Linked DNA regions of Homo sapiens. The protein of the gene in region 1 interacts with the protein of each later gene in a biochemical or structural test. Each region holds a gene or a part of one and is shown in the gene's direction. Other genes may lie near its edges.

Evidence for each region.
Region 2: of the proteins of MAP3K1 (region 1) and FAM184A, one has a biochemical effect on the other in vitro, tested with the Homo sapiens proteins (one large-scale study listed by BioGRID).
Region 3: of the proteins of MAP3K1 (region 1) and CARD14, one has a biochemical effect on the other in vitro, tested with the Homo sapiens proteins (one large-scale study listed by BioGRID).
Region 4: of the proteins of MAP3K1 (region 1) and CUEDC1, one has a biochemical effect on the other in vitro, tested with the Homo sapiens proteins (one large-scale study listed by BioGRID).
Region 5: of the proteins of MAP3K1 (region 1) and GRIPAP1, one has a biochemical effect on the other in vitro, tested with the Homo sapiens proteins (one large-scale study listed by BioGRID).
Region 6: of the proteins of MAP3K1 (region 1) and TOM1, one has a biochemical effect on the other in vitro, tested with the Homo sapiens proteins (one large-scale study listed by BioGRID).
Region 7: of the proteins of MAP3K1 (region 1) and RNF126, one has a biochemical effect on the other in vitro, tested with the Homo sapiens proteins (one large-scale study listed by BioGRID).

The regions. Positions count from the first base shown.
Region 1 is NC_000005.10:56,881,503-56,885,812, forward strand, and holds part of MAP3K1 (mitogen-activated protein kinase kinase kinase 1), read left to right. Parts: intron 1-67; coding exon 68-1,364; intron 1,365-2,024; coding exon 2,025-2,177; intron 2,178-3,161; coding exon 3,162-3,324; intron 3,325-4,310. UniProt on the Homo sapiens protein: Component of a protein kinase signal transduction cascade. Activates the ERK and JNK kinase pathways by phosphorylation of MAP2K1 and MAP2K4. May phosphorylate the MAPK8/JNK1 kinase.
Region 2 is NC_000006.12:119,019,194-119,023,503, reverse strand, and holds part of FAM184A (protein FAM184A), read left to right. Parts: intron 1-423; coding exon 424-559; intron 560-3,344; coding exon 3,345-3,526; intron 3,527-4,310.
Region 3 is NC_000017.11:80,175,937-80,180,246, forward strand, and holds part of CARD14 (caspase recruitment domain-containing protein 14), read left to right. Parts: intron 1-2,571; 5' UTR 2,572-2,719; intron 2,720-3,158; exon of another isoform or gene 3,159-3,167; 5' UTR 3,168-3,365; intron 3,366-4,310. UniProt on the Homo sapiens protein: Acts as a scaffolding protein that can activate the inflammatory transcription factor NF-kappa-B and p38/JNK MAP kinase signaling pathways.
Region 4 is NC_000017.11:57,864,554-57,868,451, reverse strand, and holds part of CUEDC1 (CUE domain-containing protein 1), read left to right. Parts: intron 1-208; coding exon 209-302; intron 303-759; exon of another isoform or gene 760-829; intron 830-1,036; coding exon 1,037-1,095; exon of another isoform or gene 1,096-1,114; intron 1,115-1,907; coding exon 1,908-1,975; 3' UTR 1,976-1,978; intron 1,979-3,898.
Region 5 is NC_000023.11:48,988,536-48,992,845, reverse strand, and holds part of GRIPAP1 (GRIP1-associated protein 1), read left to right. Parts: intron 1-1,735; coding exon 1,736-1,920; intron 1,921-2,113; coding exon 2,114-2,161; intron 2,162-2,842; coding exon 2,843-2,874; intron 2,875-2,963; coding exon 2,964-3,011; intron 3,012-3,135; coding exon 3,136-3,235; intron 3,236-4,310. UniProt on the Homo sapiens protein: Regulates the endosomal recycling back to the neuronal plasma membrane, possibly by connecting early and late recycling endosomal domains and promoting segregation of recycling endosomes from early endosomal membranes.
Region 6 is NC_000022.11:35,319,996-35,324,305, forward strand, and holds part of TOM1 (target of Myb1 membrane trafficking protein), read left to right. Parts: intron 1-1,746; exon of another isoform or gene 1,747-1,852; intron 1,853-1,963; coding exon 1,964-2,042; intron 2,043-3,003; exon of another isoform or gene 3,004-3,032; coding exon 3,033-3,182; intron 3,183-3,500; coding exon 3,501-3,635; intron 3,636-3,772; coding exon 3,773-3,919; intron 3,920-4,310.
Region 7 is NC_000019.10:653,006-657,315, reverse strand, and holds part of RNF126 (E3 ubiquitin-protein ligase RNF126), read left to right. Parts: intron 1-4,310. UniProt on the Homo sapiens protein: E3 ubiquitin-protein ligase that mediates ubiquitination oF target proteins. Depending on the associated E2 ligase, mediates 'Lys-27'-, 'Lys-29'-, 'Lys-48'- and/or 'Lys-63'-linked polyubiquitination of substrates.

The DNA.
Region 1 (4,310 bases):
TTTTTAAGTTTCCATGTATTTTTCAGTAATTGGAACTTATATGGTAATGAATGTTTTTTTCTTTCAGGTATAAGAAGCTGCTGTCCCTCTTAACCTTTGCTTTGCAGTCCATTGATAATTCCCACTCAATGGTTGGCAAACTTTCCAGAAGGATCTACTTGAGTTCTGCAAGAATGGTTACTACAGTACCCCATGTGTTTTCAAAACTGTTAGAAATGCTGAGTGTTTCCAGTTCCACTCACTTCACCAGGATGCGTCGCCGTTTGATGGCTATTGCAGATGAGGTGGAAATTGCCGAAGCCATCCAGTTGGGCGTAGAAGACACTTTGGATGGTCAACAGGACAGCTTCTTGCAGGCATCTGTTCCCAACAACTATCTGGAAACCACAGAGAACAGTTCCCCTGAGTGCACAGTCCATTTAGAGAAAACTGGAAAAGGATTATGTGCTACAAAATTGAGTGCCAGTTCAGAGGACATTTCTGAGAGACTGGCCAGCATTTCAGTAGGACCTTCTAGTTCAACAACAACAACAACAACAACAACAGAGCAACCAAAGCCAATGGTTCAAACAAAAGGCAGACCCCACAGTCAGTGTTTGAACTCCTCTCCTTTATCTCATCATTCCCAATTAATGTTTCCAGCCTTGTCAACCCCTTCTTCTTCTACCCCATCTGTACCAGCTGGCACTGCAACAGATGTCTCTAAGCATAGACTTCAGGGATTCATTCCCTGCAGAATACCTTCTGCATCTCCTCAAACACAGCGCAAGTTTTCTCTACAATTCCACAGAAACTGTCCTGAAAACAAAGACTCAGATAAACTTTCCCCAGTCTTTACTCAGTCAAGACCCTTGCCCTCCAGTAACATACACAGGCCAAAGCCATCTAGACCTACCCCAGGTAATACAAGTAAACAGGGAGATCCCTCAAAAAATAGCATGACACTTGATCTGAACAGTAGTTCCAAATGTGATGACAGCTTTGGCTGTAGCAGCAATAGTAGTAATGCTGTTATACCCAGTGACGAGACAGTGTTCACCCCAGTAGAGGAGAAATGCAGATTAGATGTCAATACAGAGCTCAACTCCAGTATTGAGGACCTTCTTGAAGCATCTATGCCTTCAAGTGATACAACAGTAACTTTTAAGTCAGAAGTTGCTGTCCTGTCTCCTGAAAAGGCTGAAAATGATGATACCTACAAAGATGATGTGAATCATAATCAAAAGTGCAAAGAGAAGATGGAAGCTGAAGAAGAAGAAGCTTTAGCAATTGCCATGGCAATGTCAGCGTCTCAGGATGCCCTCCCCATAGTTCCTCAGCTGCAGGTTGAAAATGGAGAAGATATCATCATTATTCAACAGGATGTAAGTATAGATTCTTTAAGAGGTTAGAAAACTTCCTTGGGGCTGGGCACAGTGACTCATACCTGGAATTCCAGCACTTGGGGAGGCTGAGGCCGAAGGATTGCTTGAGCACAGGAGTTCGAAACTAGCCTGGTCAACAAAGCAAGACCCTGTCTCTACAAAAAATTTTAAAAATTAGCCAGGCATGATAGTGTACACCTGGGGTCCCAGCTACTCAGGAAGCTGAGGTGGGGAGGGTCACTTGAACCTGGGAGTTTGAGGCTACAGTGAGCTGTGATTACACCATTGTACTCTAGCCTGAATGACAGAGCAAGACACTGTCTCACAGAGAGCTTCCTTGGACCATACTAAAATAAACCTAATTCAGAAATGCTGCTTCTAACATTCAGAAGCAGAGTTTTCCACATAAAATTATTACTTATACAACAATAATGTTTGTACTGTTTAAACAGCAATAATTCTTGCCTATGGGCATTTCCGGTTAATTGTATAATGGTGATTACTTTTGCATTTGCTGTCGGTCACAAATACCTTCCATTCAGAGGTCACATTTATAGGTGGTTTGGGAAGCCAGACTGAATAAGAATAATATCTTGCAGACTAATTTCACAAAATCTTACTCCTTTAACAGTAAAAAGATTGCTTTCGTTTAATATGTAGACACCAGAGACTCTACCAGGACATACCAAAGCAAAACAACCGTATAGAGAAGACACTGAATGGCTGAAAGGTCAACAGATAGGCCTTGGAGCATTTTCTTCTTGTTATCAGGCTCAAGATGTGGGAACTGGAACTTTAATGGCTGTTAAACAGGTAAATATCTAGTGAGCATATAAATGAAATGACTCAAATCACAAAATGAAGCATGTTCAGTAAAAAGAATAAAGGATATGTCCACGTGTGTGTACTTTAGTTCTTTAAACTTTGAGAAACTTAGTTTCAAAGTAGATGTTTCTAAAGCACCAGAAACATCATGAATTCTGTTATTGTTAAAAGTTGAGGCCACGCGTGGTGGCTCACACCTGTAATCCCAGCACTTTGGGAGGCCAAGGTGGTTGGATCATTTGAGGCCAGGAGTTCAAGACCAGCCTGGCCAGCATGGTGAAACCCTACCTCTACTAAAAATACAAAAATCGGCCGGGCAGGGTGGTAGGCACCTGTAGTCCCAGCTACTCAGGAGGCTGAGACAGAAGAATTGCTTGAACTCAGGAGGTAGAGGTTGCAGTGAGCCGAGATCGCACCACTGTACTCCAGCCTGAGCAACAGAGCAAGACTGTCTCAAAAAAAAATAAATAAAAGTTGAAGTATGATTATTGTAAGACTACAATATCAAGATGGGCCTTACAAAGGTTTTTTTGGTTTTGCTTTTTGTAGGTAGTAGAGGTGGTTTTCAGGTACTTCTTTCAACAGTGTACTTGTGCGGTGCCATCTTGGGGTTTCAGTGGTTTACTTTTTATTATAACGAGCATACTTAATCAGGATAGGAAAATTATTAAACTTTCATTTTTAAATCATGTTGATTCTTCTCCCATATTTGGGCTTTTCTCATCTTTACTCTGAGACTATTGGAATATTGACTATATCCCAATATTTTTGTCATTTTTCTGATGTTTACTGCTGCTTAAGCTAGATTCTTAGTGTTTAAAAGAGTTTGACTTGGGTTTGTTTAAAGTACATTGCATCCATAAGCATAAATGCCATCTGTTGCTAATAAAGTGCTAGTTTGCATTTGTTCATTTTAGATCAGATTGCTAGTGAAAATATGCAAAACTTTGTGAACGTGTTTATTTGAAACAGGTGACTTATGTCAGAAACACATCTTCTGAGCAAGAAGAAGTAGTAGAAGCACTAAGAGAAGAGATAAGAATGATGAGCCATCTGAATCATCCAAACATCATTAGGATGTTGGGAGCCACGTGTGAGAAGAGCAATTACAATCTCTTCATTGAATGGATGGCAGGTATGTTAATGTTTTAAATTACAAAATAGTAGTACGTGGATTTAACTTTCTGCAATTTAGGAAAAACCAGTTTAATTAAAATTTATTTCTATCAAATAGTTTGGGTTTCTAAAAACAAATCACCCCAATATATTAGTATGAACCACAAATACTTCGTTTTGTATTTCATTTACTATAAATGAAATATTGACTACCTCTACCTTTTAAATTTTTCCAGTGTGTTTTTAAATGATTGTGTAGCATTGTTGTTTTTAATACTTGATATGTATAAGATATGTATATTTCCAGGTAGCCATGATAAATTGGACAGATGAGGAAGTGTTTTAACATAACAATATACAAACAAAATTAACATATAACTTGAAAACTTACTACAAGTAAACTAGCACTGAAGCATAAAGTTGAACCTTGTCATCTGCTGAAATAAATGAAGACTGAGTTTTATTTTGTATTATACAATGTATACAATAAAATTAATGACCTGATGTGATGAACAGATTGTTTGGTTTAACTTCTTAGATTTGTGTGTGTATTTAAGAGTGCATTTCTCTTTACCAGTCAGTTCTTAAGTATGTTATCTGTTGGTTGGTCTTAATAAAGATTTACACTACAGTAGATAGGTTGACTACTATAAACACTTTTAAAAGCGGCTAAATTTGAGACATGTTCCAGGTCAGAGCTAGTAAATGGTAGAATATGACGCCTAACTCTGGGTTTTCTGTTCCTCCTCCCATTCTTTCCACCTTTTACTACATAATATGTTAACATTGTTTACTTTAGTCATTAATAAAGTTGTTTTGTGTATTTTGAGAAGACAGAGAATTGAATTGTACATTTCAGAAATAGTTTAATCCGAAATTGTTAACTTTTACAGCTTTCTGAAATCTTGACTCTCCAATAAACTGGTTTCCCTGTGGGTTCTGTGAAAATGTCTCCTAATTAGTAGGTTTTTGAGATGATACAGGAATATGTTAGTTTTGAAATGT
Region 2 (4,310 bases), on another chromosome or scaffold:
TTAAATACATTTTTTTCTTTTCCTTTCACTAATAATGGTTTGCCTGCTAGCTGATATTTAGAATTTGATCAAGAAATTGCTTGCTTTCTAAACCTGAATTTAATAGGGGTATTGCACAAGTCTGGGGGAAAAAAATGCCGGAAGTCCACAAGTTTTGTTTTGTTGGCTTAGAAAATTTCATAGCCATGTTTTTAATATCTGTGCAACATTAGAATGGATTAGAAAGTGTGGAATAGCCTTTCCTGATTGGGTCATGTTTATGAAAACATCAAGTTATAAATCACTAATACTTACAGATTTAAAAATTGGTATATAGTTTAGTATGACTTCTGAATAAGAGAAAGCTGACCCTTATAATTTAAATGAATTATTTAGCTTAGTATTATTCCTGCATTTTAACAATGGCTATTTAATCTTTCTTAGGTTCTTCAAAAACAGCTTGATGATGCCAAGGAGGGAGAAATGGCCCTATTAAGCAAGCACAAAGAAGTGGAAAGTGAGCTAGCAGCTGCCAGAGAACGTTTACAACAGCAAGCTTCAGATCTTGTCCTCAAAGCTAGTATGTGTGACCACAGTTTTTGATGTAATGCTTAGCTAAAATCAACACTTTATTTATTTATTTTTTTGGAGACAGAGTCTTGCTCTGTCGCCCAGACGGGAGTGCAGTGGCTCAATCTCGGCTCATTGCAACCTCTGCCTCCTGGGTTCAAGCAATTCTCCTGCCTCAGCTTCCTGAGTAGCTGGGACTACAGGTGCCCGCCACCATGCTTGGCTAATTTTTTTGTATTTTTAGTAGAGATGGAGTTTCACCGTGTTGCCCAGGCTGGTCTCGAACTCCTGAGCTCAGGCAGTCTCCCTGCCTCAGCCTCCCAAAGTGCTGGGATTACAGGCATGAGCCACCACGCTCGGCCCCAACACTTAAATGTTAATTTAAGGTAGCATTTATTTTTTCTTCTAACATTTTAAAACTATTTAGACTGTAAATAAGTTAAAGGACTCAATATGTTACTAATTACTTATAAGATACACAAATATTTTTTATTTTTAGGAATATATTTTTATAGAAAACTTGAGAGTTTTCCTTTGTGAGGAAAAATACCAATAGCAGGTAAAATACCAATAAAGTAGTCACTAAAAGAAAAACGGGCTGGGCATGGTGGCTTACACCTATAATCTCAGCACTTTGGGAGGCCAAAGTGGGCAGATCACTTGTGGCCAGAGGTTTGAGACCAGCCTGACCAACGAGGTGAAACCACATCTCTACTAAAAATAACAAAAATTAGCTGGGCATGGTGGTACACACTTGTAATTCCAGCTACTAAGGAGGCTGAGGCATGAGAATTACTTGAACCTGGTGGCAGAGGTTGCAGTGAGCCGAGATTGCGCCAGTGCACTTCAGCCTGAGCAACAGAGCAAGGCTGTATCAAAAAAAAAAAAAAAAAAAAAAAAAGAAAGAACGAAAAATGAAGCACACTTTTCAAGAGGTGTTGTCCTTTAAAAATATACATTTTATTTTATTTTATTTTTTGAGACAAGGTCTTGTTCTGTCACCTAGACTGGAGTGCAGTGGCATGAACACAACTCACTGTAGCCTGGACTTCCTGGGCTCAAGTGATCCTCCCACTTCAGCTTCCTGAGTAGCTGGGACCACAGGCATGCACCACCTTGGCTGGCTAATTTTTTAATTTTTTGTAAAGACGGGGTCTTGCCATGTTGCCTAGGGTGACCTCAAACTCCTGGGCTCTAGCAGTTCTCCCACCTTGGCCTCCCAAAGTGCTGGGATTTCAGGTGTGAGCCACCATGCCAGCATTTATTTAGTTTTTAGAGATGGGATCTTGTTCTGTTGCTCAGGCTTGAGTGCAGTGGCCTGATCATAGCTCACTGCAGCCTAAAACTCCTGGGCTTAAGTAATCCTCTTGCCTTAGCCTTCCCAGTAGCTGGGACTCTAGGTATGCCACGGGCTAACTTTTTTAAAGATGAGGTCTCACTGAAAAAATACACATTTTAAAGTGCTCAAATTAGTTGAAGTTTGTAAATTACAGCAGTTCATTTCTTAGGGCTTGTTACTAAGGTTCATTTTTACATACTAAAGCTGACTTGCCTATTTCTCAAGTGGCTGGTATGCTTTTTCACAACCATTACTGGAGGAAGTGGGTGACTTGTGTCAGTTCTGAAGTTATATTTTGTCTAAGTGTTTAGTGTGCCCAGGAAGGCTGTTTGAGCTGGTTCTTTGAGGATCTCATTTGATTTTGATTGGCTTATCAGTGAATCTCAGATTTTCCTTCCTCTAAAATAGTTGTTTTTAATAGCCTTTAGTGCACATTGGAGTGACCTGAAGGGTTTGTGAAACTACAGATGCTGGGCCCCACCCTCAGAGTTTCTGATTCACTTTTAGGTCTGGGGTGGGTCACATTTCTAACCAGAGTTCCCAGGTGATGCTGGTGATGCTGGTCCTGGGTACTTTGAGAACCTCTGCCTTAAACTATCCTTTCTATGAGACCTTTTTCTTCACTCACTTTTCATCTCTCTGTCTCTCCTCATTTTTCTCCACCTTCCCTGCTTTTTGCTGTCATTTAAGAGATTCTTTCATAACCTTGCTGTCTTTATCTGTGTCTTACATCACCTTAGTTGTTGGTTGGTTGGTTGTTTTTATTTGGAGATGAGGTCTCGCTATGTTGCAGGACATAGTGCAGTGGCTGTTACAGGTGCAGTCATAGCTCACTGCAACCTTGAACTCCTGGGCTCAAACAATCCTCCCATCTCAACCTCCCAAGTAGCTGGAACTACAAGCTCCACTTTAGGTCTTTATCTGGCCTCTTGCCTGAAACAAATTCAATTTCAACCAAACTGCTATCTGCCATCTTTGTTTCCTACATACAAACTTCTTCCTTTTTATGTTAGAATTTGAAAATAAATTAGAAAAGAACGAATCACTCATTTTGGCGCCACAGTGTCAGTCAGTGCATCCTCTCCGTCCTTCTTTTATTCCCAGGAGACTTTCTTATGAAGCCTACTGAGGAGTTGCGCCTACTTCAACCTGTTTAGCTTGCAATCTTAAAAAAACAAAAACAAAAACAAAAAAAACCAGTAAAACGGTACGAGGTGCAGGAAGCAACATTAATCATGTGAAAATGACGTTTTAATTTAAATTATTCTAGTGCGCTAAGAAGTATTTTCATGTAAATATTTCCATTTTATGTAGTGAAGAAACAAAAGGAAAATTTGTACATGTAGACCATTTATTTTACTTAAGTATAAAGTACAGTTGTGTTATTAAATGTAAACTGTTTATCTCATAGTACAACTGATTTTTAAATTGAAGGGATTTTCTTTTTGGGGGATAGGTCATATTGGAATGCTTCAAGCAACTCAAATGACCCAGGAAGTTACAATTAAAGATTTAGAATCAGAAAAATCGAGAGTCAATGAGAGATTATCTCAACTTGAAGAGGAAAGAGCTTTTTTGCGAAGCAAAACCCAAAGTCTGGATGAAGAGCAGAAGCAACAGATTCTAGAACTGGAGAAGGTAAAAAGTAATGGACACTCCATTCCCCCCGAAAGAGTTCCGTTTTTCTCTTTTTCACATTTGAAGTATTTGGAGTATTTCTTGCTACTCCCCAGTAACAATACATTTCCTACTTTAGTAGTTATTTTTGGTTCTAATTTTGAGGAAATGGGTATATAGCTAGACTATCCTATGCTGTATGTATGTTCAAAATATGTGGGTAACAATCTATATAATATAAAAACTTTAAGACATTTCAACCTATTTCAAGCCAGAAATTGAATAAACTCTTATTTCAGTGGAGTGTATACTTATAATCATTATTCGTTTTCTATTAATGAAATATATTACTGCATATCCATGTAGGAAATTTCTGTAGAACTGAAAATATGACAAGCTTCAAGCTCTGAAAATGTATACCAAGATAATTGAATTTCTAGTTTAACAAGTGAAACATCATTTATAGAGTAATTGCTGAATATGTATTCCAGTTTTTCAGATGCCCACAATACCAAGTGGGAGTTTTGGACATACTTTTCTTTCTCTTTCCCTCAACGTCTAAGTATTTTGAAAATATCTATTCTCTTTGCTCTTTACTTACTTCCATTCATTCCTTAACCTGGTGCAGTCCTCTCTGACCATCAGTCCACAGAATTTGCTTTTGCCTCAGCCCTCAGTGCCATCCTGATTGGTGGACTTGGTGGATCATATCTTACTGTGGTACTTACTACCCACTGATTTACAATCTCTCATCTCTTGGTATTTCACATTCTTTCACATTTTTCTCGTACCTCCTTGGCCTTAC
Region 3 (4,310 bases), on another chromosome or scaffold:
AGCTGCTCTCGGATCGTTTTTTTTTTTTTTTTTTTTTTTTTTTTTTTTTTTTTTTTAAAAACGGGATCGTGCTATGTTGCTAGGCTAGTCTTGAACTCCTGGGCTCAAGCGATCCTCCTGCCTCTGCCTTCCAAATTACAGGCATGAGCCACTGCACCAAGCCTGGATCTTTTTTTTTTTTTTTAAACAACTTTGTTGAAATATAACTCACGGCCAAACACAGTGGCTCACACCTATAATCCTAGCACTTTCGGAGGCTGAGGGGGGAGGATCACTTGAGCCTAGGAGTTTGAGACCAGCCCAGGCAACATAGTGAGACCCCCTTCTTTACAAAAAACAACAACAACAAAAAAAATGAGCCTGGCATGGGGGCACATATCTGTATTCCCAGATACTCCGGAGGCTAAGGTAGAGGATCACTTAAGCCCAGAAGACGGATGTTGCCGTGAGCTGAGATTGCACCATTGCACTCCAGCCTGAGCAACAGAGCAAGACCTTGTCTCAAAAAAAAAAAAAAAAAAAAAGGAAGAGCTATAACCCATACGGCACACAATTCACCCGTTTAAGATGCTTCTAGTGTATTCACAGATGTGTGCAATCGCCGCCACAGTTAACTTTAGGACATTCCATCATCTGTAAAGGAAACATCCCCTACCTTTAGCTACCATCCTGACATCCTGATAGACAGGGGGCCTGAAGACCCCTCGGTGATGCAGGGCAGGGCTGGAGTGGGGGCCCTGGGCTGACTTTATTGCTCGCTATTGCTGCCTTGAAATTCTGAATACGTTTTTAAAACAAACGCACCATCCTTTCATTTTGCCCTGAGCTCCACAGACGATATAGCTGGTCCTGAAGTGGGGCAGAGGATCATTCTGACTTGGAGTCAGACTCTAGCGACGCAGGCTTCTACTGGGTGGAGGCCCAGGAGCTCAGGAGCCTTCTGTGGGAGTGTGCCCATTGGCAGCGCATCCCTGGAGATGGACGGACAATTTCCACATCGCCTTTGCCCCTGTGCACGCTCCCTCTGGCTGCCGTCATAAATTACCACAAACTGGGTGGCTTAAAACAACAGAAATGTATTTGCTCATGGTTCTGGAGGCCAGAAGTCCACACTCCAGGGGTGAGCAGGGCCGCACCCCCATGAAGGCTCCAGGGAGGGTCTGCTTCATGCCTTCTCTTGAGTTTCTAGTGTTGCCACCGACCCTTGGCGTGTCACTCCAGTCTCGGCCTCTGCCAACATGGGGTGATCATGGGGTGTCTAGGCCTAGGGCCCTTCTCCTCCTCTTCTTCTTCTTCTTTCTTTTTTTTTTAAGACAGGGTCTTGCTCTGTCGTCCAGGCTGGAGTGGAGTGGCACTACCTCAGCTCTGCAACCTACACCTCCCAGGCTCAAGCGATCCTCCCACCTCAGCCTCCTAAGTAGCTGCGACTACAGGTGTGCACCACAACACCTGGCTAATTAAAAAAAAAATTTTTTTAGGCCAGGTGCAGTGGTTCATGCCTGTAATCCCAGCACTTTGGGAGGCCGAGGCAGGCGGATCACTTGAGGTCAGGAGATCGAGACCAGCCTGGCCAACATGGTGAAACCTTGTCTCTACTAAAAATAAAGAATTAGCTGGGCATGGTGGCATGCACCTGTGATCCCAGATACTCAGAAGGCTGAGGCAGGAGAATTGCTTGAACCCGGGAGACAAAGGTTGCAGTGAGCCAAGATTGTGCCATTGCACTGCAGCCTGGGAGACGAGCAAGACTCTGTCTCAAAAAAAAAAAATTTTTTTTTAGCAGATTTTAGCAGAGACAAGGTCTCACTGTGTTGCCCAGGCTGGTCTCAAACTCCTGAGCTCAAGCAATCTGCCCGCCTTGGCCTTTCAAAGTGTGGGATTACAGGCATGAGCCACCACACCCAGCCCTTCTCCTCTTGTTATAAGGGCACCCATCCCTGGACTAGGGCCCACCCTAATGACCTCAACTTGATTACGTTGGCAGAGACTTATTCCCAAATGAGGTCCTACTTACAGGTACTGGGGGTCAAGACTTCAGCATTCTTTTGCGGGGGGCCACAATCAGTGACACCCTGACTCGCAAGCCTCAATCACCTGTTCCAGTGAGAAACAGGACTGAGATCAGAAGGAATGAGGCAGAGCTGCCCTCGATTGGTTCTCCTCTCCTCCTCACCTGCCCACCCCGGCCTCTGCGCCCGTCACTGTCCTCTCCAGCTGTTCTTCCTTCCGGGCAAGGAGACTCAGCAGAAGGGTATGAGTGGCCTGGCCCTGTGGGGAGCCGCAGACAGGCCTGTGGGTGCTTTGGATAACTACTGCGCCTGTCAACTCTCCTTGGTAGTCTAGGGTTCAAAGCCCAGGTCCATTCTAGAAGTCTGCTTCCAAGTGCTAAGGAAGCTTCAATAGTTACTGGGAAAACCACAGGGGTCAAAGGTCCGTCGAGTTATTTCCCGGATCCGAGTCTGACGTCTTTTCCCCGCCGCTTGCGGTGGTTGTGACCGAACCTTGAGTTTTGGAACAGGTCACATGGCTTTGAAATCACGGTCAATTCACCTGGTGCTGCTTTGACTTCAGGCTCTTCCTTCTGCCCAGCTCCGTCCCACCCAGCAGCCCGCAGAGAAAGGAGGCAGCTGGCACCACACTGGGCTTTGGAGACACTGCGGGGACTGTGGACCCCACCCTGCTGCACGGAGCTCCTGCAAAAGCAAACCTGAGAACCTTGGTGAGTACTTCCGGAGACCCGGCTCCTGGGACGGCTTCTGGCGCTGCTCCTGCACACACGACTCTCCAACGATCATTTTCCATGTTTTATTTTTATCTTTTAATTTTTGAGATGGAGTCTCACTCTGTCACCCAGGCTGGAGTGCAATGATGCAATCTCAGCTTACTGCAACCTCTGCCTCCCAGGTTCAAGTGATTGTCCTGCCTCAGCTTCTCAAGTAGCTGGGACTACAGGCACCCGTCACCATGACTGGCTAATTTTTGTATTTTCAATAGAGACGGGTTTCCACCATGTTGGTCAGGCTAGTCTCAAACTCCTGACCTCAGGTGATCTGCCCGCCTTGGCCTCCCAAAGTGCTGGGATTACAGGCATGAGCCACTGGCCCCGGCCCATTTTCCATTTTTCAGATGACAGGTGTTGATTTGCTCTGATTTTCAAGTATTTTTAGCATACAGATCCCTGCAAGAGGCATCTGTCTCCAGTGGTCCAGCCTCTCCTTCCAAATGAAAAGAATCAAGTCACAGGAATTCATGGGTCTGTAAGGAATCGCTCCCATCTGTGCCCAGGAGATTAACAAAGGCGGTGGCTGCAGCTCTGTGAGCAGTGGAGAAAAATTAGGCACAACCTGATATCCTCCCACAGGAGCGTAAGTCCACTGTGGTTATTCATATCATTGAATCCAGTGCACAGTTTAAAGGACCATGCATGTATCAAGCTGCATGTATCAGTATGAGAAACCTCAGAAGCCGTACAGCCTTGCACAGAACGATAGTTTCTGTGAAGTTCCAGCTAACACTGAAGGCACTGTTGATGTAAAGCTGCTGTCTGCACGAAGTATCATGCAAAGATGCTATGTACTGTTTATACACACTTCCATTTGTAGGAAATGATTTTTAAAATATCATTTTTAGGCTGGACTGTAATCCCAGCACTTTCAGAGGCTGAGGTAGACAGATCACCTGAGCCCAGAAGTTCGAGACCAGCCTGAGCAACATACGGAGATTCCATCTCTACAAAAATTAAAAAAGAAGCCAGGCATGGTGGCGCATGCCTGCGGTCTCAGCTACTTGAGAGGCTGAGGTGGGAGGATTGCTTGGGTCTGGGAGCTCAAGGCTGCAGTGAGCCACGATCACGCTACTGCGTTCCAGCCTGGGCAACAGAGTGAGACCCTACCTCAAAAAAAATCATTTTTAAATGATTTTAGAATGTCTGGCCAGAGAGGGAGGGAAGAGGGACTGAAGAGAACAAAAAGGCGCCATCTGCCTCGCATTTCCTTAAAAAGAAACCTGAAGTGCAGAATGTCAAGATGGTTGAATCCGCATGGTAGATATGTGGATATTTGTTATTTGCAGGATTTTTTAATATGCTGAAAACAGTGCACAGTTTTAAAACATTTTAAAATTATTTAGATGGATTAATGGGCTAATGGCCTCATGTTGATGCCAGAGAGGGGCTCAGGCAGGGGCACAGTGGGGTACACAGCTCATCTCTCGCTGGGATGGGAGGCTGGGCAGGTGACGGCTGAGGACCTCCAACAGCTCTTAGAGTCTGCACTAGCCAGCATGTCCCCTGAAGAGCAGGTGTTCCGGGC
Region 4 (3,898 bases), on another chromosome or scaffold:
ACCCAGGATGTAGCCTCTTGCTCCTGGGGTGGCGTCCTCAGGGGTCTGCGATTCCTGTCATCTCTCCCTCCTCAGCTCCCACCCTTGCCTGCCCCCTGCTCCCTCTCCGGGGGGCCTTGGTCCTCCCCTGGCCTTTCCCACACCTGGGAGGAGGCCATCTGGTGTGCTGGCTGCTGAGAGAATGACTCACAGGTCTCTCTGCCCCCAGCCACCCGGAGGAAACTGTTTGAACTTGCCCGAGCCTTCTCAGAGAAGACCAAAATGAGGAAGTCAAAGAGGAAACACTTGTTGAAGCATCAGTCGTATCCTTTCCAGCCTGGCACTGGTGGGGGTGGTGGAAGCCAAGGGCCATGGAGCAAGACCCCTGTTGGACTCCCTGCAGCTGTGCCCTCCCCTGGGAGTGGAACCCGGCTCTGTGGCCTTCCCTTCCTCCTCCCCTCTCCTCCATGAGCTTGGCCACCAGTCCACTGCCCGTCTCTCGTTGCCAACCAGGGACCAGGCCTAGGGAGCAGGGCAGCAGCTCCTGTCTCCCTTCTGTAGGCCCAGAAGTTGTCCTATTAACTTTTTTTTTGGTCTGAGGTTATGTACTTCTTGGGAGAAAAAGTGGTTCTTCCATCAATATCAAACCTTCCCTTCATTTCTCTAGTTGAACTGGTGCACGAGTCCTCCTCACTCCAAGCATGTTGGCCCTCCCTTCCTCGAGTAGAAATACGGCTTTCCACCTTTTTATCAGAACTCCTATTCATGCTTCTCAAACAGGGCCTAGGATAGCAGAGGCTCAGCAGCCAGAGGGAAACAGGGAGGAAGCTGTTTCTCCATCCCCAGAGATGTAAGCTGGGCGAGAGTGTCAGGGCCTGGCCATACCACTGACCTCAGGAAAATGAGCCTGGGGGACAGTACTAAGGGTGTGGGGGGTCAGGTGGGTGTGTCAGGTACCTCCAGAGCTTTGAGGGGTGGGGCAGAGAGTCAGTGGGACTGGGAGGACTAGGGCAGTGTCCCCTCATCCCTGGGACGGTTTTCCTGAATGGCCTGGCAGGCTGGGGGCTGCCGCGTCAACAGCCAACCTCCTGGATGATGTGGAGGGCCACGCGTGTGGTGAGGCTGGAGGGGAGTCGTAAGCTCCAACTTCTCTATGATCGGTGATCTCCCAGCGGAGTTCCTGGGTGTTTCATGGGAGCACCCGCCCTGTCCCCTGGAGGAACACACTGAGGGTTGGTGGGCAGGTGACCCAAAGATATGGATCCCCCTGACTTGGTCGACATTGCTTCCCCCTTTCTGCAACCCCTGAAAAGGGGCCCTAGCCCTACTTCCACCTAGATGTGTACCTGTAGCATGAAGTGCCAGGTACTGTTTCTGGGGAATATTCTTTTGGGTGTGAGGTGGCAGACAGGCCTGCCCCCATGGGGGACCCTCGGCCTGAGAACCAAGCACTGGGCAGCTTCAGTCTGTGGGCCCAGAGGCTTCTCAACTTTCACCCAGTCCCTTCCAAAGGCCACGTGGGCCAGAAGACTCTGCCTCAGACCCTCCTGGGCCCGCAGCTGAACCCTGATCCTCATGCCACATTCGAGGGTCAGGAGGCATCCAGAAACAAGGACTGGAAGGGCCTCAGAGGTCATCTAGATAGTCCAGCTTTTCCATCCCATTTTATAGATGAGGAAATTTGAGGCCCAAAGACGAGGGGAGAACTTGTCCAAGGTCTCAGAGCTCAGTGGTGGACCCTGGCCAGCACCTGAGTGTCCTGCTGCCTCTCTCCCTGGACCCATGCATCGTCTACCTGGGGGGATCTGCATGGGTCCCAAATGAAGGGGGCAGAGAGAGTCGGGTCAGCTCTCTTGCCCAGTCTAGGGGCCGTGCCTGAGCGAGGCCCTGCAGGGTAGAGGATGAGGCAGCTTCCCTCTCCTTTTCAGATGAAGACTTCCGGGGCAGGCGTCAGGAGGCACCCAAGGTGGAGGAAGGCCTGCGAGAAGGACAGTAAGAGGTAAGGCCTGGAGCCATAGCAACCCAGGGACTGCCCAAGGCCAGGGCCCCCCACACTATGCACCCCACATGTCCTCCCAGGTGTCCAGAGGCGCTGGGCTCAGGCAACTGGGTAGCACAGGCCCCACGTGTCTTCCCTCATAGTTGCGGCAGGGACACGGGCGTGGGAACTAGTTCATTGCATGTCTTTTTTGGTTATTTATTCATTTGACAAAAGATGAGCACACCTGCCTATGACAGATGCTGAGAACAGGAAAACAAAATCAGCTTTGACCTTGAAGAGTTTACAGTCCAGTTGAGAAGACAGTCCAGGACACACGTAGCACACTGAGAGGATGATTTAAGAAAAACTGGCTGGGCACGGTGTCCCATGCCTGTAATCCCAGCACTTTGGGAGGCCAAGGTGGGTGGATCAGCTGAGGTCAGGAGTTCGAGACCAGCCTGGCCAACATGGTGAAACCCTGTCTCTGCTAAAAATACAAAAATTAGCCTGGCGTGGTGGCAAGCGCCTGTAATCCCAGCTACTTGGGAGGCTGAGGCAGGAGAATCACTTGAATCTGGGAGGCGGAGGTGGCAGTGAGCTGAGATCGCGCCATTGCACACCAGCCTGGGCGACAAGAGTGAAACTTCATCTCAAAAAAAAAAAAAAAAGAAAAAGAAAAACTGAGGTGGTCTCAACCCGGCTGTGCACACACACAACTCTCTCCAGCCCCCTGCTTGGGTTGGGTGGGCTGGGATCTGCCACACCAGGATGAGGAAACCCTCCTGAGGCAGCGGTTTCTGGCTGAAGCCCCAGGGCTCCAAGCCATTTCTCCTCCTCGCTTCCTGTGCACCCTCTTGGGGAGAAAAAGAAAATACCAAGGCCTCCTCCAGGAGTTGGCCAAGACAGCTGTCCCTTTTCCAGCCCCCGTTTACCATGGGAGAGGGGAAGCTGCCCGGCCTTCCCCAGCCACTTGTTTGGTCCCAGTGGGCAGCATCTACAAGGCTTTCTTGAGTTGATGGTGTGGCAGGTATGGCCCTGTGTCAGACGATGGAGAAATACTCACTTGCCTCAGGATAGTCACAATGGAGGGAAACCGGGAACAAGTAAATACAAGTGCCCTCTCCTCTCTGCCTGGGCAGCTGGCCCCCACACCCACTCCACCTGACTCCCTACCACATCTCCCACCAGGCACTGCAGCCCCTTCTATTCCCCTCAGGCTTTCCTCAAACACAAAGCCGCGGCCCACTTCCCACTGTCCTGGAATGCCCAGATAGAGCCTGCCGGGGAATCGCCTCCACTGTCACCCCACGCTGCTACTATCTCCACGCCCTTCTCCTTCCTACTGGTCCCCAGGGAGAACGGGTCCTGTCCAAACCACCCCTACATCAGAAACTTGCTCATCATTCATTCATTCATTCATTCATTCATTCATTTTGAGACAGAGTCTCGCTCTGTTGCCCAGGCTGGAGTGCAGTGGCACAATCTTGGCTCATTGCAACCTTCACCTCTCAGGTTCAAGCGATTCTCCTGCCTCAGCCTCCCGAGTAGCTGGGATTATAGGCACCCACTATCTTGCCTGGCTAATTTGTTTTTGTATTTTTAGTAGAGATGGATTTTTGCCATGTGGCCAGGCTGGTTTCGAACATCTGACCCCAGGTGACCTGCCCGCCTGGACCTCCCAAAGTGCTAGGATTACAGGTGTGAGCCACCGTACCTGCACCTCATCATTTATTTCTGTCCTAGGACTTCCAGCTTGTCCCCTTCCAGCTCCTTCTGCAAGTTGACATCCTCCTCCTCCTCCCCTTAAACACCAAGGGTCCTTGAGTCTTCCCTGCCATCCTCCTTCATCCACTGCAGGCTGACAGCCCCTCCCATCACTCGGATTGACTCGGAGGTCACCCAGCAGCTCAGGGCCTTAGCATCTTCTGCATTCTTATG
Region 5 (4,310 bases), on another chromosome or scaffold:
CCATCTCAAAAAAAAAAAGGAGATATTTGCTAAGTGAAAAAGTGAATGGAGTGTTGGGAAGATTCTGAGCCCAGATTGTAAGTGGGGTCTGGGATGAAAGCTGAAAGAAAGCTTGATAGAGTGTGGGAGCATGTGGTGTGTGGAACTTTGGAGAGCAGCTGGGACTTCTGTGGTGATGGATGCTGGTTCCATGACCAGGAGGGAGACTTAGTAGAATGTGAGTAGGAATTAGGAGGCTCTAGGAGGGATTCAGCTGTAAGTCAGTGGTAGCATATGGTGGGCATGGCCTTCAAGGGCTATGGGTGGGGCTTCAAGGATTGAGAATGGGATTTGTGAAACCAGCTTGGGCTAATTTAATAGTAAACAGAATCTTAGTGGTTGATAGGGCTTAAAATATTTGTGAGAGCCTGGGCACAGTGGCTCATACCTTGATTCCAGCACTCTGGGAGGCTGAGGCAGAAGGATCTCTTGAGGCTAGGAGTTTAAGACCAGCCTAGGCAACATAGCAGGAACTTGTGTGTACTAAAAATAAAATAATTAGGCCAGGCACGGTGTTTCACACCTGTAATCCTAGCACTTTGGGAGGCCAAGGTGGGCAGATCGCCTGAGGTCAGGAGTTCAAGACCAGCCTGGCCAACATGGCAAAACCCCATTTCTATTAAAAATACAATAATTAGCCAGGTTTGATGGCAAATGCCTGTAATTCCAGCTACTTGGGAGGCTGAGGCAGGAGAATCACTTGAACCTGGGAGGCAGAGGTTGCAGTGAGCCGAGATCACACCACTGTACTCCAGCCTGGGTGACAGAGAAAGACTCAGTCTCAAGAAAATAAACAAATAAATAAATAATAAAATAAAATTAACTGGGCATGGTGTGCACTTGTAGTCCCAGCTACTTGGGAGGATCGCTTGAGCCCAGGAGTTTGAGGTTGCAGTGAGCTATGATTGCACCACTGCACACCAGCCTGGGCAACAGAGCAAGACTGTCTAGGGAAAAAGATTTTTTTGAGACGGAGTCTCACTCTGTCACCCAGGCTGGAGTGCAATGGCTCGATCGCGGCTCACTGCAACCTCTGCCTCCTGGGTTCAAGCGATTCTCCTGCCTCAGCCCCACGAGTAGCTGGGATTACAAGCGCGTGCGCCACCACGCCCAGCTAATTTTTGTATTTTTAGTAGAGACGGGGTTTCACCATATTGGTCAGGCTGGTCTTGAACTCCTGACCTCATGATCCACCTGCCTTGGCCTCCCAAAGTGCTGGGATACAGGCGTGAGCCACCGTGCCCAGCCACGGAAAAAGATTTTTGGGGGAGGCTGAGGTGGGAGGATTGCTTGAGCTCAGGAGTTCAAGACCAGTCTGGGCAATGTAGCGAGACCTTGTCTCTACAAAAAAATCAAAAAATTAGCCCGGCATGATGGCACACACCTCTGATCCCAGCTACTTGGGAGAGTGAGGTGGGAGAATCACTTGAGCCCAGGAGGTCAAGGTTGCAGTGAACTGTGATCATTCCAGTGCACTCCAGCCTGGGTGACAGAGCAAGTCCCTGTCTCAAAAAAAAAAAGAAAAAAATGTGAGAGGCATGGATAGAGCTGAACCTTCGTCTTTTAGGCATGTGGTCATTTGGCACAGGGACTCTGCCACCTGAGGGGTTGAAGGCCAGTTCTCCCTCTATTCGAGGCATGGCAAGGGACTTCAGAGACCACCTCATCCATCATATATCCCTGTTCTACTCACCAGCCCTGCAGGAACGCTATGGGAAAGAAGCCGGGAAGTTCTCAGCTGTCAGTGAGGGCCAGGGGGATCCCCCAGGGGGCCTGGCCCCCACCGTCCTGGCCCCCATGCCGTTGGCAGAGGTGGAGCTGAAATGGGAAATGGAGAAAGAGGAGAAGAGATTGCTCTGGGAACAGCTGCAAGGCTTAGAGGTGAATCTGAGTCTGTTGGAGCTGGAATGCCAGAAGGCAGGGCAGATGTTCTACCTCTGTCTATAGTCCCACGGAGATGGCTGTGACATCACCATCTTGTGGGCTGATGGGGTGAGGGAGGCAGGAGGGCAGGGGAAGGCTTCTCCTTGTCCTTGCTAACAACAACCCTCCCATCCCTCATCCTTCCCTGCAGAGCTCAAAGCAGGCCGAAACATCCAGGCTGCAGGAGGAACTTGCTAAGGTGCGGCTGCTTGGCTCTTTCCCATTCTGCTCCCAATCTGCTGGATTCTTTCCCATTCCATTCCCAATCCTAGGGCAGAAGGGGCATTGTACCCCATCAAAGCCTAGGTTTCATCATCTGTGAAATGGAGAGACTCACACCTATGTCTCAGAGTTACTTTCAGTATGGAATGAGTTAATGTGGTCCCACTATATCTTGTGCATGATAAGTTTCATCCCATCCATCTCTCAGCTTTGCCCATTCACTCATTCATTCATTCATGCAAGCATTTACAGACTCCTGGCTCTTATCTTAGGACCTGGAGACCCAGGGGTGCGGCACCCAGTCATGATATCCTGCTTTCCAGGCCTCCCAGCCTAGCCAATCTATAACATGGCCATTGGCCACTATGTTGGGAGCATAAATACCGGGCTTTGGAACCTGAAGGATCTGGGTGGAGATAATATTGTTGTTGCTGACCCGCTGAGCAACCAAATTACTTAACCTTTCCAAGACTCTGTTTCCCCATTTGTAAAACTGGTACTACTCACTTGTCAGGGCTATTTTGAGGATTCCACAAGACAACATAAGTAAATCCTGGCTTCCAAAAATGACTTAATAAGAAGTGTCTATATTTATTAATTTTAGGTTTGTCTTTATATTATTCTCAATGTTATCACTTGTCTGTACCTCTCTCCCCAGCTCTCCGAGAAACTGAAAAAGAAACAAGAAAGGTAAATTTCTTTTTCCCAAGGGTACTGGGGGCCGAGGGGGGAATTAACTTACGGAACTGACCCATCTACATCTGTCCTTCTGTGCCCAGTTTTTGCCGTCTGCAGACAGAAAAGGAGACTCTGTTTAATGACAGCAGGTAACTGCCAGATTTGCGGGTATTGGTGGACAATTGGGACAGTGCCCAGTGAAGATTACAGGGGCAGAGCTAGGAGACTGGGCCTCAAGCCATGTCCAACACACCCCCTCCCCATCACTCCTAGGAACAAGATTGAGGAATTACAACAACGGAAGGAAGCTGATCACAAAGCCCAGTTGGCTCGAACCCAGAAGCTGCAGCAGGAACTTGAGGCTGCCAATCAGGTGATGGGGACTGGGTTCTGAGATCCCTGGGGTAGGGGCCAGGACTGGGAGCCTGGAGAGGTCTGAGGTCCATGGAGGCTGGCTGGGGAGTCTGAGATTTCCTGTGTTGGAAATGGGTTCTGGGGCCCCCCAGGAGCTAGGAAAATGGGAATTGGAGAGCCCTAGGAATTGTTATAGGAGTCTTCATGAGTGTAAGATCTCAGGGGGCTAAGGACTTAGGGGGCTGTGTGCTATAAGTTTGTGTAAATCTGAAACTCCTGGAGGTTTGAGACCACAGTCTGGATGAATCTGTGGTCACTAGGGCCTAGGACCAGGAACTGGGGTAAGTCTGAACTCCCTGGGTGCTGGGTGACTTTGAAATCTTTAGGGGCTGGGATGTCAGTAAATTTGGGACTCCCAAGGGCTGAGGACATGGCTGGGTAGATATACAACTTTCAAGGGTGAGATAGTTGGGGCTGAAGGCTGAGTGCATTTGAGATCCTCAGGATCTGGGCGCTGGCTTGGGCCTAAGACACCTAGGAAGTGGGATCATATGGGCTAGGTAGTCCTGAGATCCTTGAGGGCTGTGAACAAAAAGCTGGTCAGTCTGAGACCTCCAGGGGCTGGAGCAGAAGTTTAGGTGGGTCTGAGGCTCCTGAGGACTGGGGGCTGGATGGTTCTGAAGCCTCTGGGTTTCCTTCTAGAAAAGGTGAGTCTGAGGTCCCTTGGAATGGAGGATATGGTGGCTTGTGGTTCTGAAGTCCCTAGAAACTGGGAACATGGGGTCTGAGACGGGAGTCTGGGTAAAGCTGAGACCCCCAGGAACTGGTGGTTAACTGGGTCTGAAGATTCCAAGAGACTGGGGAGCAGAGTGACAGGTGAAGGGGTCAGTCTGAGAGTTCACCAGGACCTGGAAACTAGGAGGTTGTGAGTTTGAGACCTCTAGGATCTGGGACTATGAGTTTGGGTGGATCTCACCTGGGAAGTAGGGACGTGGGAGATGAGTGTGTCTGAAACCCCTGGTGGTTGGGATTGGGAGGCTGGGTGAAACTGTCATCCTTGGGTGCTGACTACATCTGAGATCCATGGGGCTGAC
Region 6 (4,310 bases), on another chromosome or scaffold:
ATGGGGTCAGCACTGACAGCCAGGCAGACAGCCGGATGGGTCCCAGTGGCCACTGGCCAGGCTGAGAAATGTTACTTGTGCTTCAGTAGTGTGATGGGCTCTAGGAAGGGAAGCTGTCCAAAGAGAACACCATCCCTGCCCTCTAGCAAGCTTCTTCTCTACCCAGGGTGGGCCCCCAGTTCAATGTGGCATGGCAGAACAGGCCAGGGAGACTGGAGGACCTGGGAAAGTGTTGTGGAAGGGGTGGATTTTAGCTGAGGCTTCACCTCATGGATGTGGAGGTCAGGAGCCTTCAGGGTGCAAGTGGGGGCCCTGCACAAAGGCTTTTAGACAAGAGCAGTCAGGGCAGCACTGAGTATACCTGTATAGGGCCGAGGGTGGAGGATGGTGGGAATCACAGAGGGGACAGGGAGAGCAGGCTGGCACCCCAGCTTCCAGGGGCCTCCCAACACCGTGACCCCTAGGCTTCTTCAGCCCTCCCCGACCTCCCCCACACTCAGTGTGGCCTCCTCTTAGTTCCTCCAAGGCATCAAGCTCCTCTGCACCCAAGACCTTGGTCCAGGCTCTGACCTTGACCCAAACTGCTCTGCCCCCACTCCCCCCAGGTGGTCCTTCCCATCTTTCAAGGCCCAACTACAAGACCACCCCCTCGGAGGTCTTTTCTGACCACCCCCATCCTCACCTCTGCTCTTTTTCCAGGACCTGCTTATTCCTTGCTCTTCTTTGGATCTCCCCGCAAGGTGGGGAGGAGGCAGGGCCATATGGTCTTGTTTGCCACTGTGTCCCCAGCACCTAGCATGGTGCTACATACATATTGGGTGCTTAATAAGAGTTGAATGGGCCAGACATGGTGGCTCACACTGGTAGTCTCAGCGTTTTGGGAGGCTGAGGCAGGAGGATCACTTGAGCCCAGGAGTTCCGGGCTACAGCGAGCTGTGATTGCACCACTGCACTCCAGCCTGGGCGACAGAGTGAGACTCTGTCTCAGAAGGAAAAAAAAAAAAAACTTGAATGGAAGGGTAAATGGACAGATAGAGCAGCTGGCCAGGACGGGGCATCAGAACACTATGCTAGCTGGGCTCAGGGACTCATGCCTGTAATCACAACATATTGGGAGGCCGAGGTGGGAGAATCATTTGAGCCCAGGAGTTTGAGACCAGCCTGGGCAACATAGCAAGACCCCATCTCTATTTTTGTAATGAAAACATTATGCCTCCAGGTTATTTGTTCTTAAACTTGAGCATGCATAAGAAACCCTTGGGGAGCATGAGAAGCATTCAGATTCAGGGGCCCCACTCCCTGAGAATTTGGTTCAGGTGGTCTAGGGTGGGGACCTAGGGTTCTGCTTTTTTTTTTTGAATGTCCTTTGTTTTTTTGAGACAGGGTCTCACTCTGTCGCCCAGGCTGGAGTACAGTGGCGCAATCTCGGCTCTCACTCTGTTGCCCAGGCTGGAGTACAGTGGCGTAATCTCGGCTCACTGCAACCTCTGCCTCCTGGGTTCAAGCGATTCTCCCGCCTCAACCTCCCAAGTAGCTGGGATTACAGGGTCATACCACCACGCCCGGCAAATTTTTGTATTTTTAGTAGAGACAGGGTTTCACCATGTTGGCCAGGCTGGTCTTGAACTCCTGGCCTCAAGTGATCCACCTGCCTCAGCCTCCCAAAGTCCTGGGATTACAGGCATGAGCCACCGCGCCCGGCCAGGTTCTGCACTTTTAACAAAACGCTCTCATCTTTTCTCAAAGTGACTCTGCTGCTGGAGGTCCAGGGGCCACAGGTTGTGAGTCCCTGCTAAGCAATGGGCTAGGAAGATTCTGATGTGATCAGAACCTGGCTGGATACACAAAACAGGTGGGGCACAGGGAGGATGGGCCAATAAGAACTGTTCCAACTCTCCAGGGTCTCTGGTGTTAGGTAAGGGGGCTCTATTCCTAAGCCCACCCTTTTTCTTGTCCTCCTTAGTCCCAAAGATGCCCTCCGAGCAGTAAAGAAGAGAATCGTGGGGAATAAGAACTTCCACGAGGTGATGCTGGCTCTCACAGTGAGTGCCCCATCTGTCTGTCCTGTGGCAGGACTACGGTCCACTGAAAGTCACCTCCCCTCAGACCCAGCAGGACTCCCAGCCTCCTCTGAGCTCCTCATTTGAGAGCTGGAAAGGTCTGTAGGCAACGCACTGTCCTGTCTACACTGCAGGCGGATGCAGAATGGCAAGAGGCCATTTGGAAAGGTTCTCCCCAATCCCCCAGCATGGGAACAGACGCTTACATCACTCCAGAACCACTGGCAGGGAGAGCCTGGGCCAAAGGACCTGTGGGTGACATTGAAGCTCAGTAAACCCAGGCCTCCGCGGGGGCAGGGAGGCCGGCTGACTGAGTTGGGTGCTGCTCGGCACTTTGGTGCTCTGGCAAATGAATGTAAAATAAATACCAGTGGCTGAGAACAGTCTTGCCCACACCACTGAACCAGCCCAGATCTCAGGGCGGCCAGACACACGTGGGCCTCCTAGCCGTCAGCATGGGTTTGGCTGGGGAAGATATAAATGCTGTCCCACCCTCCTCCACAAGCAGCATTTATATCCAGGTGAATTGGCTTAAGCAAAAAGCAAAGGCAATTCCTGCAGTGGGAAGTGGAGAGTGGGGAGGGAAGTTCAGTGCCTTTTCCCTGGGCCACAGGCTCACCAGTCGATTGACATCTCAGATGCTCCTTGATTTCCTCTTGGAGAGCCCCTTCTCTCTAGACCATGTTTAGCTCAGAGACAGCATTGGGATTCTGCGTGCACTGACGCCAGTCAGGGAAGGAAGTCCAGCCCACACACCATACCTCTGCCCACCCTAGGCCGTGCCCTCCAGTAAACAAGTCCCCCAGTCCTGGCATTGTCCCAGTCCTCCACATTCAAGGGTCTCACTCCAGGAAGTCCCATCTCCTCTCCCGGGCCTCCTCTCTGGGACACAGGAGGAGCCACGAGGGTGGGGGTTCTGAGCACCTCCTCTCCTCTGACCAAGGTGCTCGACGGCACCTCTCGGCCCTCCAGGTCTTAGAAACCTGTGTCAAGAACTGCGGGCACCGCTTCCACGTGCTGGTGGCCAGCCAGGACTTCGTGGAGAGTGTGCTGGTGAGGACCATCCTGCCCAAGAACAACCCACCCACCATCGTGCATGACAAAGTGCTCAACCTCATCCAGGTGAGTGCCAGGACAGGGCAGGGCACGGCCAGGAAGAGCTGTCAGTGCAGGAGCTTCCTGCCCAGTGGAGAGTCGAGGCCATCGTGTTTGTCCCAGGCTCCGCTTCTCATTTCGGGGCGTCTCGGTTGTCGGCTGGTGGGATGTTCTGTGGGGAGGGAGGCTTGCCAACTGCGTGCTTTGCTGTGGAGTGGGCAGGGCAGATGTAGTTAAAAAAAAAAAAAAAGCAGGGAAAGAATGTCTGTTCTCTGTCTGAGTGCCAGGTGGGCAGGCTCACAGGTGAGCTGTGGTTACCGGCTGTGTCCCCTTGTCCCCTCTCAGTCCTGGGCTGACGCGTTCCGCAGCTCGCCCGATCTGACAGGTGTGGTCACCATCTATGAGGACCTGCGGAGGAAAGGCCTGGAGTTCCCCATGACTGACCTGGACATGCTGTCACCCATCCACACACCCCAGAGGGTGAGAGAACTGCCGTACCGGGAACCAAGGGAAGGGAGGCAGGACTCATCCCCAGAGACATCACCAGGCTGGCCCCTGACTTCCTGGGCTCTTGATGTTCCCAGGAGCCCTCACTGATCCTGTTTTCCTCCCACTAGACCGTGTTCAACTCAGAGACACAATCAGGACAGGATTCTGTGGGCACTGACTCCAGCCAGCAAGAGGACTCTGGCCAGCATGCTGCCCCTCTGCCCGCCCCGCCCATACTCTCCGGTGACACGCCCATAGCACCAACCCCGGAACAGGTAAACGAGCCTGGGGTCAGAACCGTCAGGTCCAGGCAGGTGGGCCACACACGTCAGGGAGGGCCCCCTGTCAGAATTTACCATCCACGGAGCCTCCACTTCTTCCTCACAGCAGCCCACAGGGTATGTGTGGTTCTTCCTGTTTGAGCGATGAGACTCAGAGAGGTCCATTCACTTGCCCAGAGCACACAGTCATCAGAGACAGTTGGGATCCAAGCTCACGTCTGTCTGACTCCTGGCAGGCACTGCCCTGTACCTTGGCCATTTTCCAACCTGTGTTTTCTGCGGGGCCCTCCAACAGCACCATGGAGAGGTGTCCTGTACGCAGCCCCTTCAGGCCAGCTCCACCTGTGTGGTTTCTTACACACTCACAGCTTTCATTTGAGCTGGG
Region 7 (4,310 bases), on another chromosome or scaffold:
TGATGCACAGAGGGGCTGAGCTCGGCACATGGGGACCAGAGCGGCCGAGCGCTGTGCCAGGCCACGTGGGCGTGTGCAGGGCCTCGTGCTTGTCCAGGAGAGATTCGGGGCTGGGGCTGGCAAGCCAGGGTCCTCAGAGGGAGACAGCTTCTCCCTCAGGCCCTTCTGGGGCTGCCTGACCTTGTGGATGCACCCAGCAGGAGAGATGGTGGTCGGGGCAGCTGCACAGCTGACTTACGTCCTGCCCTCAGTGGGGGCCAGTGCAGCTGTTCCAGGTCCACTGGGTGGTGCTAGCCTGGGGAGTCACCATGCAGGGAGAGCCTGAGCCCTGAGCTACCCCTCCATTCCCAGAGACCCACCCAGGCGATGGAGCGGCCCTGGGCTCCCGGTCAGCTGGCGGGCGGACGGCGGCAACCCCTGAGCCCAGAGGAGCCCCGATAGACCCGACACCGGCAGAAACCAGGGGTTCAGATTTGACTGTGAAGTCTCAGCGTGTTTACGTGGGGCGTCCCAATCCCGACACCCCAAACACACCCCAAGAACCGACGCCTGGGGAGAGTTGTCACGGCCACTGTGGCAGAGCCACACTGCTCCCACACTAAGCTCAGGGCCACAGTGGTGGTCGTTGGCTGCTTCCCCTTCCCCTTTCCCTTTTTCTTTTTCTTTTTCTGACACGGTCTCACTCTGTGGCCCAGGCTGGAGTGCAGTGGTATGATCTCGGCTCACTGCAACCTCTGCCTGCCGGGTTTAAGCGATTCTCGTGCCTCAGCTCCTGAGTAGCTGGGATTACAGGCACCCACCACCGTGCCCAGCTAATTTTTGTATTTTTAGTAGAGACGGTATTTCCCTATGTTGGCTGGTCTCGAACTCCTAACCTCAAGTGATCTGCCCACTTTGGCCTCCCAAAGTGCTAGGATTACAGGTGTGAGCCACTGTGCCCAGCCCTTTTTTTCTTTGTTTCTTTCTTTTTTTTGTTTTTGTTTTTGAGATGCTGCCTCACTCTGTTGCTGCAATCTTGGCTCACTGCAGCCTCCACCTCCCAGGTTCAAGCGATCCTGGCACCTCAGCCTCCCTAGCAGCTGGGACCACAGGCGCCTGGCCCATTTATTTTAATAGCTTTATCTCAGTATTTTCACACACCATATAATTCACCTGGTGAAACGTTTGTAGTATATTCATAAAGTTGTGCAACCACCACCACAGTCTAATTCCACAGCATTCTCACAGCTGCAAAAAGAACCCACCTCAGCCCTGCCAGCCGTCACTCCCCGTCCCCTCCCCCAGGCCCTGGTGCTCACACATCCCCTCTCTGTCTCTGTGGCTCGGCCTGTCCTGGACATTTCATAGACGTGGGATCACACGCTGCGTGGTCTTCTGTGTCTGGCATCTCTCACTGGACGTGATGTCCTCAAGATGCAATCCCCCCTCCCCCCCGCCGTGGCCTGGTCTGGGCCTTGCCCCTTTCCATGGTTGAGTCGTGCTCTGAGGTGCGGGTGGACACTGGAGCTGTTTGCATCTGCCGACGACGATGATGAACTGTGCTGCCGTGAACTCTCACCTGCCAGTTCTGGCCATGTGAACATTTGGTGGGCAGGTGTCTTCGTTTCTCTGGGGTCTGCGCCTGGAGTGAAAGTTCTAGCTCGTGGGTCATGGGGTAGTTCCATCTGGGGGACTTCTGGGCTCCCAGCAGGCCTGACGGGGTCTTGCATCTCGTCCTGGCTGGCCCTGGGAAGTGGCATCTCGCTGGGGCTGGCCGGCTGCGTTTACCCAGCGTGTTTTTGGAGGCATGTCCTGTACACGTCCTTTCCCCCCCCACTTTTCTTTTTTTTTGAGATGGAGTGTCACTCTGTCGCCCGGGCTAGAGTGCAGTGGCGCGATCTCGGCTCACTGCAAGCTCTGCCTCCCAGGTTCAAGCCGTTCTCCTGCCTCAGCCTCCCGACTTTGCCCGTTTTTAGTTGCGTTGTCTGTTTCTCTTTTTCTTTTTTTTTTTGGCAGGGTCTGGTTCTGTCACCCAGGCTAGCGCAGTGGTGGGACCACAGCTCACTGCGGTCTCGATCTCCTGGACTCAAGCCATTCTGCCTCCTGCCTCCCGCTCCTGCCTGTCTCCTCCCCCTCCTTAGTAGCTGGAGCTACAGACCCACCCCAGCATACCCAGCTAATTTGTTTTTTGTAGAAATGGGGTTTGGCCATGTTGGCTAGGCTGGTCTCAAGCTCCTGACCTCAAATGGTCTGCCCACCTTGGCTTCCCAAAGTACTGGGATCACAGGTGTGAGCTGCTGCACCTGGCCTGGGCTTTTTTTTCTTTCTTTCTTTCTTTCTTTTGAGTTGTAAGCACTTTTTTTTTTCCCGATACGGAGTCTCACTCTGTCGCCCAGGCTGGAGTTACAATGTCATGATCTCGGCTCGTTGCAGCCTCCGCCTCCTAGGTTCAAGCGATTCTCCTGTCTCAGCCTCCTGAGTAGCTGGGATTACAGGTACGTGCCACCACGCCTGGCTAACATTTGTATTTTTAGTAGAGACGGGGTTTCTCCATGTTGTCCAGGCTGGTCTCGAACTCCTGGCCTCAGGTGATTCGCCTGCCTCGGCCTCCCAAAGTGCCAGGATTACAGGTATGAGACACCGCGCCCGGCCAGCACTTTTTTTTTTTTTTTTTTTTTTTTTTTTTTTTTTTTTGAGACGGAGTCTTGCTCCCTCGCCCAGGCTGCAGTGCAATGGCACAATCTCAGCTCACTGCAACCTCCGCCTCCCGGGCTCAAGCAATTCTCCTGCCTCAGCCTCCCAAGTAGCTGGGATTACAGGCGCCCGCCACCACACCCGGCTAATTTTTGTATTTTTAGTAGAGACAGAGTTTCACCATGTTGGCCAGGCTGGTCTCCAACTCCTGATCTCAGATGATCCGCCCGCCTCGGCCTCCCGAAGTGCCAGGATTACAGGCCTGAGCCACCGCGCCCCCGGTGATGGCGGAGCGTGCCGAGAATTCGTGGGGCGTGGGCTGAAACGCATGTGGTGCCTCCCGGCCTCACCAGGAGCCGGGCCGCACTTTTTCTATATTGTAGATGGTGCCTCTTCACTCTCCCCTCACGGTGGGTTCATGTGCATCTGGCATCGTTTGCTCACCCTGGCCTTAGTCCCTCCCCACCCAGCCTGTGCTTCAGTGGCAGGAGCAGGTGAGGCAGGCACGGCGTGGTGTGGGCGGGGGCCCAGCTGTCGGCCCTCCCCTTGGGCACTGCACGCCAGACCCCCGCTTCTCCCCAGAGTCAGTGGGTGAGGCCGGGATCTTGCTTGCTGGAGAGGTCCCAGCCCCTGCCCCTGCGAAGACTGAACAGCCCCGGTGCAACCTGCATCCCCAGAGCCTGGGGTCGACCTTGGCTCCCCTCACAGCACTCCCCCATGCACGGTGGGAGCCTTGTCTCCTGTTTTTGTCTGTGTTACCTGGGGGTGGTCTTGGGACCCCCATGTGAGCCCCTGGCGTGATGACACGTGCCGTGTGAGGCCATTTTCACGTTGCTGCGATGGAGCACTTGAGACTGGGTCGTTCATAGAGAGCAGTTGATTTAGCTTCCAGTTTCCAGTTCTGCAGGCTGTGCGGGAAGTGTGTGTCGGCATCTGCCCAGCCCCTGGTGAGGCCGGGAGGCACCATGCACGTTTCAGCCCAGGCCCCACGAATGCTCGGCACGCTCCGCCATCACCAGGGGCCCAGCCATCCATGAGGAGTCCGCCCTGTGAGCCAGTGTCTCCAGCAGGCCCTTCAGCCCTGGGGATCCCGTTGCAGTGTGAGATCCACAGGGGATGGCATCCGTCCTGCTCGGCACAGCTGTGGCTTGAGGCTGGTGCTGGGGAACTGTGAACGTGGTTTTGGGACTCACCCACGGCTGTCCCTGGGCAGGGTCCTCACGTCTCCTCTGGGACATCACCATGTTGGCCTTGTGTTGTCCTTGGCTCTAGGGGGACCTGGGGATGGGGTCTTGCAGGGGTGTGGCCAGCGTGGACGTGGCCTCCCCCGAGCCAGGGGAACGGGCTGTGTGCGGGGCTGCCAGAGCGTCCTGGAAATGCCACTGTGGGGTATTGGGGCACCCCTCCGAGTGGTGCCACCTGTGTGAGGAGGTGCCCAGGCACTGGTGACGCCCGTCACGGTGGGGCAGGTCGGAGGGGCTCAGCCAAGGCGCTGATGACGCTGGTGACGCCCGTCACGGTGGGGCCAGGTCGGAGGGGCTCAGATCGCCGGGAGCCACCAAAGGGTCAGCGGGTGGCTGGCAGAGGCCAGGTCCCCTCGGCCGCCCTCCAGGACCCACGGGTTGGGAGCCACCCTG